4 separate regions of the Homo sapiens genome follow, and regions 1, 2 and 3 are each linked to region 4. The links come from fine-mapping of genetic effects on gene expression. A gene starts in region 4. Each other region holds a variant in brackets. All regions are shown on one strand. Distances are between the middles of the regions. Region 1 overlaps DYSF (dysferlin). Region 2 overlaps DYSF (dysferlin). Region 3 overlaps ZNF638 (zinc finger protein 638). Region 4 holds the start of DYSF (dysferlin).

Region 1 (2,687 bases), 64 kb after region 4:
GTCAGGTTGTCCCATCATTAGGGATGATCGCCTGATCACACAGTTAAAATGGTGCCTCCAGACAGCTCCCTTATAAATCTTCCCACTTTGTAATTAGCAAGTAAACTGTGGGTGATATCTTGGCACTGTACGGATGTCCTACTTCTCAGCTACCTCTTATCTAATGGTCTAAGCATCCATTGACCTTCCTGTCTGAAGAAGTCATTTAGTTGGGACTGCAAAGTGGTGATTTTCTCATTATCATTCTTTTTCTCTTGATTAGCCAACATTTTTTTCTGTAAAGAAGAGCTTTCTCCCTCCGCTTCGTTGAGTATTAGTATGGACCTCAATACTTTTTATTTCTAATGTTAAATCAGTCATTATTGTGTTGATGTATGAATTATACTGAAGGTGGCCATCAGGAGCCCCTTTGAGCTGGGCTCTCTCTCCTCAGAGACTAGCACAGGGTCCCAGTGAAAATGTACACGGGGATGTAATGCAGATTTTAAACTCGTTCATGTGGAGGTGTAAATGCTTACTGCAGATCCTCACCTGAGTGCAGGTTTTGGTGTAGACTCAGGGTCCAGGTCTTACGCCCTGCGCCTGGCATCAGGAGGAATGGGGACAGCTGCTTGAAGGTAGGAAGGAAACAGGAAGCTGCGGCTGTACGTTTTTGTGGGACACTAGCTCCAAGGACTAGGATTAATTCTTCCACTTGACACTTGGGGGAATTCACGTCCTGAGATTGTTCTTATTTCGCATTCCCAACATGGAAGGTATTTCGATGGTGGCTAGAACCAAGACCGACATGCCTTCACATTCATTGGAACTAAGCCTCAGAGCTCCGGGGCTCCGGGCTGCTCCTGGGTCCCTGCCAGCATCTTTGATCTCCCTGGGTCTTCTGTTCTGAGATGCCCTTGGCTGGCCCTGGGGATTTCTTTAGGAAGGTACCAGTGTCTAGGGGGAGGTGAAAGGACAAAGGCAGCCAAGGCAAGGCACTGTATACAGTAGATTGGCATCTGGGCTCATGCAAGAAGCTGCGCCTCCCATTTTTCCTCTAGAAGGAGGTGGAGGGAGTTGAAGAATGACCTTATGGTGAAGGAGGCAGCTGGAATGCTCCGTCTTGAAAGTTTCAACCTGGCCAGCCTCCTCGGTGGACCCCAGGCCTTTGCGTCCTCTCTGCCCTAAGCCACCTCCTTGTGGCGTCCCCGCTTCTGCTGCTCTTATGGC[G/A]TGTCTCATTCTGCCTGTCCCTCTCTTTTAGCCTGCTTGCATGTCCCTTTTCTCTCTTTACACCCTAAGCTGAAGAGCCCTGAGGTTACATTCTGTGTACCCACCCACCCCAGCTGGCCTTCTTTGCATTTCCCCTTATGGACACCTGGTGGCAGTATTATCCAAGATGTGAACCATACTTGATTTGGCCAAGTTCCTAAGAAGATAGGAGTGTGGGAGAGTGTGTGCGACTGTGCACTTCATGGTATGGAAGAAAGAAAAGGTCCTGCCCTACTTGTAGGGCAGGACAGGAAGATTTAAAACAACTTTTTTTTTTCTGAATTCAAGAATAAAACCCATTAATTGCAAAAAATTGAAAAAAATCAGAGACAAGGAAAACAACAAAAACTCCCACTGCACCATATTCTGTACCCTGCACCACCCTGGAGAGAATTACTGATAACATTGGTTTGTATTACCTACCCTGTTACCTCCCCTCTTCCCACTTGCTGGGAAAAAATCATGAAAATATTGATTTTCCTTATTCAAGGATTCTGTATTTGCCAATTTGCCTACTCACTAAAATGTATTTGCAAGCCCAAAATCAACACTCATGGCACTTTAGTGATGATTTGTGGACACTTTCAGGGCTTTGAAAAATTTGAGTCTCCCAGCGTGTATGTTGGTTGCTGAGGTTGAACAAGGTGACTCTCTGCCTCCCCGCTCCAACTCTCATGGAGTAAACATGACATGTCCATGATCAAAGGACATGTATTTACTCCACGAGAGTTGAAACAGGGAGGCAGAGAGTCTCAAAACATGGTACTGCACAGGACACGTATCAAAGGACACAGACAAAATGTGTGTCCTTTGATATGTGTCCTGTGTAGTCTCATGTTTTTCACATTTTTGTGCCTTTTCTTGGCGACTTCGCTGTTTAAAATGGCCCCAAATGTCGTGCTGAAGTGCTGTCTGGCGTTCCTCAGCTCAGAAAGGCTGTGATGTGTTTTATGGAGGAAGTGCGTGTGATAGGTAAGCTTCTGGCAGGCTTGAGTCACAGTGCCGTTGGCTGTGAGTTCAATGCTGATGACTCAGCAATGTATATTAAAAAGTAAGGTGTCCTTCAACAGAAGCACACATAAACCAAGGTTACGTATTGATCAGTTGACAAAAACATTGTGACAGAGGCTGCCAGGAATTTAACCCTGCTTCTTCTCTGAGGTAATGAGTCAGCATTCACTAATTCAGGGTTCATGGTGACCTTATAGATCATAACTACCATGAATAATGAGAATCAACTATATACATGCAGTTTGGTAAACTGCTTGTGTTGTCTCATCTTTTCTTAGGTTATTAAAGAGTCATTGAAATGATTTTTTTTGATGGCTGCATAATATTCTGTCAGATGAGTATACCATAACATTTGACCTATTTTTTGGACATATATAATTCAAATTTTCCTCTTTTATAAACAACATTGTGACAAACATCAGCATACA
Region 2 (2,687 bases), 37 kb after region 4:
GAAGGGGTCAAGGTGGACCTTGGAGAAGGAAAGGTATCTCTTATCCCTTCCCATGCCCAAGTATTTCCCTAGGGGCCAGGCCTTCCAGGGATGGTGCATGGTGGTGACTGGGTGTGGGGGTGCAGGAGAGCCCTCGTGGGGTGCTGGGTGACTGTGTGGTCTAGGCAGACCAGCCTCATCTGAGTGGTGGCAGTGAGGGGTCTGGCAGAAGAGCCAGGGTGCCTTAGGCTAGTTTTCTACATTTGACTTCTCTCTCCTCTCAGGTTCCTGGGGGAAGCCAAGGTCCCACTCCGAGAGGTCCTCGCCACCCCTAGTCTGTCCGCCAGCTTCAATGCCCCCCTGCTGGACACCAAGAAGCAGCCCACAGGGGTAAGTGCCCATCAGCCTCTGCCAGGTTAAGGTCCAAGGCATTGCCAGGTGGCTTCCTCTTTGGGCCTTGCCATTCTGACCCCAGACATGCATCTGACTTCAGCTCCCTTGAAGCAGGCCTGGCCCTCCCTGACCAGAGTTTGCAGTGTCTGGAGGGGCACTGGACTAGGGGAGATGGGAAGGGCAGAGGGAGCCCTGACCCCACCTGCAGGGCTCAAGTCAGCCTTGGCTCGCAGCAGCTTGGCCTGCCCCTTGGTCTGGTGCTGCCGGTCTGGCCACCTCCTGTCCCCAGCTTCCTGGTCAGCCTTGGCTATAGCCCACCTAGTCTCCCTGGCAGACCTCCCCTCCTCCCTCACCATCCAGCCCTCTTCTCCAGATTCAGAATCTCTGAACCATCTGGGTCACAGGGCATGAGGGATGGAGGGAAAGAGCCCTCTCCCCTGCCCACCAGGACCCTCTTCCTTTTCCTCCGTTGTTCTTCCTGCCCCTCCCTGGCCTTCTCAGTGCTCCCCCCAAGTCCAATCAGACAATTCCCAGCCCTCCTCTCTGCCTGTTATTTTTAGTGAGCTAAATATACCCTGTAGGGTTCTCTCTTCTTGGTAGAATTCCTGACCTCTCCTGTGGGTTAGCCCCGCCTTCCAGGATGTACCAGGAACCATGGATTGGAACTACTTCCGCCCTGTGAGGCCTGGGGGATTCAGGCCCTGACTTGTCTCAGACAGGGCAG[T/C]GGTACTGCCCCGTGGCGGGTGTGTGAGGCCGGGGCTCCTGGCTGGCTGGGTGAGTCAGGAAGTAGCCGGTCTGGGCAGATCTCTGAATGGAACGAGACTGGATGCTGAGACCTAGAGAAAAGGAACCACTGAAGTCACATAGTCAGTGGCTGTTCCCATGGGGGCCTGGACCAGGAGCTCATCCCCTAGACCCTCTGGTGGAATGGCTGTGGATGGACTCCTGGTTCACTGAACTCTCAGTCTGCTGCCCTCTCGGTGCTGGACTTTGCTCCCAAGGGGTCTTAGGCTGGGGATGGCTGGGCTGCTCCCTTGATGGAAGATGTCACTTCCCAGGAAAGTCCATCTGTTTCCCACACAGGGCTCACTGGCAGAATGTTCTGGTTTAGAGCAGTATTCACTGAGCCTGTCTCCATCACCCTGAGTCCCCTCTCATCCTCCGTTTCAGCCTCCTGTCTCTTAACACTCCCTGTGGTCAAGGAGGACCCCAAGGAGTTCTGGAACTACCCCTTCAGGGGTCCTGAGGAGGCTCAGACCCAACCCTCAAGGCATGGGACACAGATGGAGGGATGATAGGTATCAAGGCAGCTGGCGAGAGAAAGCCTTGGGGTCAGGCTTGGTTCTCACTTCCTTGCTGGGACACCAGCATCTCTCCACTCCAGCTCTGTGTGCATCCATGACTCTGGTGTTTCCTGCCCTTCGGTCCCTTCCAACCTCAAAGGCCTGTCCAGCCCCGAGGCAGAGTTTTCCATAGCTGGTCCCTATTCATGAGCCGTGTCAGGCTGGAGCCATCCCCTCCATACCTCCCTTCGCCTCCTCCTGCTCCTTGTTCCCACACTGTCTGGGCTTCATGTTTACCAGCGGGGAGCCTGCTGCCTTCTCTTCCCTGGCTGGGGATTCCTGGCTGTCTGCAGAGCTTTACAATCCTTCACCAACCGTGTCTCCAAAAAGAGTGTGTGAGATCCAGGAGGTGGCGGATGGGAGAGAGTGCTGGACCCTGCTGGGTTGAGCCCCACTAGCTGAGCACAGGCTGGAAATGGAGTTGGGGAGCCTCCTCCCTGTTGCCCAGGAGGCAGTCCTCACCTGTACAGAGGGTCTAGGACTAGATTCTAGTCCATGTGATGGCATTAAGGTCACAGTGCAGCCCCAGACAGGTCATATGTCCCTTTGGGCTGGGGCTTCCTGCCTGGGACCTGGGCTGGCTGCACTGTAGTGCGAGGCAGGGATAACTGGGGGTGTGCTGGGCAGGGACAGACAGCCAACAACATTGAGGGTTCTCGCTGGCCGCTCACTGAGACCTCATTTCTGAGCTAAGCCCAATCAGCAGAGCATGCCAGGTGCCCCCATTTCATTGTAGCTCTCAGTTGCCTCTAAGGGCCAAAGAACCTGCTGATGGGGTGATACGAGTGAACACAGAGCCAGTGGGATCCTTAGGAAACTCTGGCAGACTGAGAGGCGTGGGGGAGGCCGGGAGTCCTGCCGCAGGCTGACTGCAGACCCCGTTTGCCTTTTGCTCAGTGTTCTCACCCAAGTCCCTTCAGATATAGCACGCTGGGCTGTGTGCCATGGAGGATCTGGCTATGTGCCAAATCT
Region 3 (2,687 bases), 94 kb before region 4:
ATTATTTTCTCTCATTTTGTGGGTTGTCTGTTGTTTCCTTTGCTCTGCAGAAGCTTTTTAACTTGAAGTGGTCCCATTTGTTCATTTTTGTACAGCATTTGCCTGTGTTTGTGGGGTATTACTGAAGAAATATTTGCCCAGACTGATGTCCTGGAGAGAGAGTTCCTCCAGTGTTTTCTTGTAGTAGTTTCATAGTTAGAGATCTTAGATAAAAGTCTTTAATCTATTTTTATTTGATTTTTGTATATGGTGAGAGATAGGGTTCAGGTTCATTAATGCATATGGATATCCAGTTTTCCCAGCTGGTACCTCCCTAGGTTACATGCCATCCCAGCCCACTAGCTCTAATCCCAGCCCCAGCCCTAAGAGTTGCCTAGGAGTTGTTGTCCTTGTGTCCTAGACTACCTTTCAGGTTTACCTAGCACCCTGGAGCACTTTAGCCCATGGTAGTGAGACTTGCCAAGAAATTCAGATTCTTATTGCCGGGATGGATGAGTCCTCTTTGGCTAGGTCTGGTCCAAAGGCTCCTTCAGTGCATGGGTGCTGGCTGAGTACAGCATGGCTTTGCTGTCCACTGTGACAGAGCAGCACTGAGTTCAATGTAAAGTCCCCTAGTTACTGCGCTGTCCCTTCCTAAAGTGCACAGACTCTGTCCATGTTGTGGGGCCAGATTAGGGAGGTGTGCTGTCAGGGATTTAAGGCTGTCTCTGCTACCCTCGTCAATGCCTCTTTCAGTGATACAAAGTCAAAACCAGGTAGTATGAATGCTCACTTGATATTTGGTTCTTGTGATGATGCTTTTCTGTGTGCAGATAGTCGTTAAAATTTGGTGTTCCTGCTGGGGATGGGATGAACAGTGTAGGGTTCTATTCTACCATTTTGCTCCACCCAGCTATGTGTTCTAGTAATTTAATTTTTCTACTAGCTGTGGAATGGCTACTTTATAGAGGTTCTATAACACACATTTCTCAATAATTTGATTTGGTAGTCTAACCATGTTAGTGCATTCCTCATTCTTTGTAACTTCTCTATAGTGTTTCTCTGTATGAATATACCACAGATGTATTACCAATTCCTTACTGATTGATATTTAGGTTGTTTCTAGAAACAGAACTTTAGTTAACACCTTGTGTACCTTCACAGGCCATCTTTTGACATTTATGATAGTGGTTTTTTAGGTGATACCTACCCAATGGAATGGTTGGTTTATAGGATGCACAGTAATGGATAATATAAGATTGCTCACTAAATAACTGTTATAATTTACTCCCTGGTAATTTATGAGAGTATTACCAACAACATCTTAATTTCTTCAGCTTTAAAAATTCGTTATATAGAAAATGATATCTAGTTTTAATTTGCATCTTTTTGATTATTCATTAACTTCATCTTTTTATATAATTGTTAGCTATATCTATTAACTGTTTAAGTGAGTTGTCTGTATCTTTTCCTAT[TTTA/T]TTATTGTTGTCTTTTTAAAAATATTCATTTGAAGGTGCATGAATATTGTGCATTCTAGACACTAATTTTGCATTGTATGTAAGAAGTCTTTTCTTACAGTCTGTTGCTTGTGTTATGCATACATATATCAAGTTTGAATTTTTTTTTTTTTTTTTTTTTTTTTTTGGCGGAGCCTCTCTCTGTCGCCCAGGCTGGAGTGCAGTGGCACCATCTCGCCTCACTGCAAGCTCCACCTCCCGGGTTCACGTCATTCTCCTGCCTCAGCCTCCTGAGTACCTGGGACTACAGGTGCTCGCCACTAACAGAGATGGGGTTTCACCATGTTAGCCAGGATGGTCTTGATCTCCTGACCTCGTGATCCGTCCGCCTCGGCCTCTGAAAGTGCTGGGATTACAGGCGTGAGCCACCTCGCCCGGCCAAGTTTGATGTTTTTATGTACTCAAATTTATTGGTATTCTATGGCTTCTGCATTTTTTTCTTTATTATTTTTATGCCTGTGACACAGCCTCAGGAGGTTCTGAGGACATGTTCCCCTCTTTTTGAGACAAGGTCTCACTCTATCACCCAGGCTGGAATGCGGTGGCACAATTTCGGCTCATTGCCACCTCCGCCTCCCAGGCTCAAGTAATCCTCCCACCTCAGCCTCCTGAGTACCTGGGACTACAGGTGCAAGCCACCGCGCATAGCTAAGTTTTAATTTATTTTTTGTAGATATGAGGTTTCACTTTGTTGCCCAAGGTGATCTCACACTCCTGGGCTCAGGTGATTCTCCTGCCTCGGCCTCCCGAAGTGTTGGGATTACAGGCATGAGCCACTGTTTCTGGCCTGCTTTTTTTTCTTTTGTCTTTTTAAGAACTTGCCTGTGCTAGTGCCTAAAAGGTTTTATTCCTTAATCTATTATTTGCAGCATAATATAGGATTGGAATCAGTATTATTTCCAAAATGGGAGCCAGTTAGCCTCAACACTATTTATGCCTAATTTATCCTTGTTGATTTGAAAAGCTTCTTTTATGTGTATAAATTCTGTATACATAGATGTGTTTCATACTCTTCTGTTGTGGCAATACTATGTGGTTTCTGTTACAACAATTACTATAGCTTCCTAATATTTCCCTGTCTTTCTTGTAGAGTTATTTTTCTTTGTTTATTCATTTTGGTTAATGTTTTTCCTCTTTATTTAAATTCATTTTGTTTAATCTTGAACATTTACTCCTGCACATTAGTTTTAG
Region 4 (2,687 bases):
CTCCAACACAGCACTGGTTGGGGGCAGGTGTGGAGGAGGCGGAGTTGGATTCGCCAGGGTTATGGCTTAGCCCTGTGAGAATGCTGTATCCCTCAAAATAAGAGAGGGGAAAGGGAGTTGAGATTTTGCGCAGCAGTGCGTTTAGGCTGAGTGAGCAGGTTGGTTAGTGAGGACTTGGGCGGTGGGAAGACGGACAGTGCCCTGACAGGGGCTAGGTGCTGGAGTGCTGGGGGATAGAAGTGCGAAGCCAGGGCCCCTGTGTCAAGAAGTTCATACGCTGGAAAGGAACCAGACATAATAAGCGAAACGACTGTCACCGTTCATGGCTTACACCTTGAACAGCTTTCCACTGTGGAGACTAGGGAGTGTAGAGATTGTTGGGGATGGGGGACTTGCAGGGGACAGAATGGGCCGCAGCTGGACCCTAGTTCTCCAGGGAACGCAGTATGATTTGAATACAGATCTCTGCCTCCAGAGATGAGTGACTCGACACCGCTGCGGAGAAGGCTCCGAGGAGGGTTGGTGGGGACTCGAACCTCGGAGTCTCTCCCGACCCGGGGGTCCCAGCAAACCAGAACGGCCACCTAGACAGCCTGCGGACGGGAGAGGACCGGCTCCCTGGCGCAGATCATGGGGCAGGTGGAGAGAGGCGAGAGGCAATGAGGCGGGGGGCTCGGGGTGCACGGCACGCTCCGCACACTCCCCCTTCAGCGCTCACTCAGACTTGGTTTCCCCGAAGACACACTCTCGTCCCCGCCGCTGATTGCCCACTCCTTCCGCCTGCACTCCTGCCTCCTTCTCACCCTTTCGTCGAGCGCACAGGGCGGCTGCCAAGTCGGCACCGGTGCGCACCGGGCCCGGGATCCCTGGCTGGTGTGGAGCCTTGGTCACCGGAGGCCCCCGCGGAGCAGGCCCCACGGCGCCTTGTGCGCTCTCGGAGGCCGAGCTGCGCGCCCGCGTCAGCGGCGCCTCGTTCCTGGCCGGGAGCTGGGACCCGCGGAGCTAGGGACCAGCACCCCCACAGGCGCCCGTCTGACCCCTGTCCCTCCCCGCCCGCCGCGGGCAGGGCGGATCTGGGTAGGGGCCGGAGGGGGAGGGTCCGCCCAGCGGGTGTCCGGTGTCCTCCCTGCAGCCTCTCCCAGGCATTGGTCACTTCTCCGCGGAGGAGCAGCGAAGGCGACAGCTCTCTTGGCGCGGCTGCCTGGGAGCCGGGCGCTTGCTGGGTGGGTGCTCGGGCCCGGTGCTCCCGCTCCCGCCCTGACTGCGCGCCTGTGTGCCGCCGGGGCTGCCCAGCCATGCTGTGCTGCCTGCTGGTGAGGGCCAGCAACCTCCCCAGTGCGAAGAAGGACCGGCGCAGCGACCCTGTCGCAAGCCTGACTTTCCGAGGTGAGAGCCCCGTGGCTGCCGCGCCCATGCTCGGGTGCTACCCGACTCTCGGCGCTCACTGGCGGGTCTGAAGCCCCTGCTCCGGAGCTAACCCTAGTCCAGGCCACAGTTTCTCCCTTTGTCAGCAGGGACGGAAATCCCAGCCCCGACTTCTGCAGGGGGGCGATGAGGAATAAGCAGAGCACAATAAATGCCACAGGGCTTTGAAAAATTGGAAAAGCGAAAGTGCCGTAGGTCAGCGGTTATCACTTTTCTAAGACTGACACCCAGAGGAAATAAAGTCCGAGCTTTTACTGGGTAGTGGGGATAAGGGTAAGTTGGAAGATGGGTGCAGAAGGTAGAGAGGAATCAGGGCCTCTGAAAAACGGGGCGTGTAGATGATGTGCTTTGAAAGTTGTGTCTTTTTTCATTCATTCATTCATTCATTCACCCATCTTTATCCAACATTGGCTGTATTGAATCTGCCCCGTCTTAATCAGTAGGAAAAGGAACAGAATAGGATGGAAATGGCCTTGACACAAGGAGTTTTGAGGAATGTCAAGGATATTTTCTCTAAATTCAAGAAGCTAAGTCCCTACATGTAGTGCTTAGAATACATACAGGTATTTCTGTGTGGGGCAGCAGAGAAATCACACACACACTCCTCTTCTCACCAGGCGTCCTGAACCCCCTCCCCCAACCCCTCCAAGGCAGATTCCCACTGGAGCGGGTGTCTCAGGAGGGGAAAGGGAAGAGGAAGGATCTGTCAAAATTAAGAGAAGGAACAATAGCTGTGAGTCAGGACCCCAGTTCTGCAGAGAAAGATAAATCAGGAGAGGAAAGAGGGTTTCCACTTAGCCAGGAGCCATACCCTGTAGCTTTGTGGAATCGATAATAATAATAATAAAAATCTACGTATCAGAAAAGATAGTCAAATGAAGAAGGAAGAGTAGCTGGTGTTTTCATAAGCCTCCTTCAGTGCAGGCACCAAGGGAACTCTTTTCAGTCTGACCCATGATCTGAATCATATCTCCAAGCACCCCCAAGATAATGATAGATGAAAGACATGATTTGGCAAAGGGAGATTTATGTGTAGCTTTTATTCTTTGCTGTGGGACAAGTTATATGTATTCCTCTTTTGAAAGATGTGATTTGAAACGTTTAAGAAAATTTCACTATTTTCATTGATTGGTGACATGCCTGGGAGTTCACTATGCAAGAGCAACTTCAAGACAAAGTCTTTCCTTCTCCAGTGTCCACCTGATGCTGCCTAAGGCTTTGCTATGCAGAAATTGCGGTGTCACCATTGGCTGGAAAAGAAA

The links.
Region 1: its variant is fine-mapped to the expression of DYSF in whole blood (TOPMed, PIP above 0.99).
Region 2: its variant is fine-mapped to the expression of DYSF in tibial nerve (GTEx, PIP 0.96).
Region 3: its variant is fine-mapped to the expression of DYSF in blood mononuclear cells (TOPMed, PIP above 0.99).

What each region holds. Positions count from the first base shown.
Region 1 is chr2:71,529,565-71,532,251 of GRCh38, forward strand. The region is part of intron 14 of DYSF (dysferlin); the gene reads left to right. Among named protein-coding and RNA genes, the nearest start is that of DYSF, 64 kb to the left of the region's middle. The variant G/A (reference allele first, on the strand shown) is at 1,210.
Region 2 is chr2:71,502,951-71,505,637 of GRCh38, forward strand. It overlaps DYSF (dysferlin), which reads left to right. Exons shown (of 56, transcript NM_001130987.2): 4 at 264-369. Among named protein-coding and RNA genes, the nearest start is that of DYSF, 38 kb to the left of the region's middle. RefSeq lists an enhancer at 357-856 and a silencer at 2,549-2,687. The variant T/C (reference allele first, on the strand shown) is at 1,097.
Region 3 is chr2:71,371,842-71,374,528 of GRCh38, forward strand. All of the region lies in intron 8 of ZNF638 (zinc finger protein 638), which reads left to right. Among named protein-coding and RNA genes, the nearest start is that of ZNF638, 41 kb to the left of the region's middle. The variant TTTA/T (reference allele first, on the strand shown) is at 1,455.
Region 4 is chr2:71,465,548-71,468,234 of GRCh38, forward strand. DYSF (dysferlin) reads left to right here and starts at 1,152. Exons shown (of 56, transcript NM_001130987.2): 1 at 1,152-1,386. The coding sequence starts at 1,296.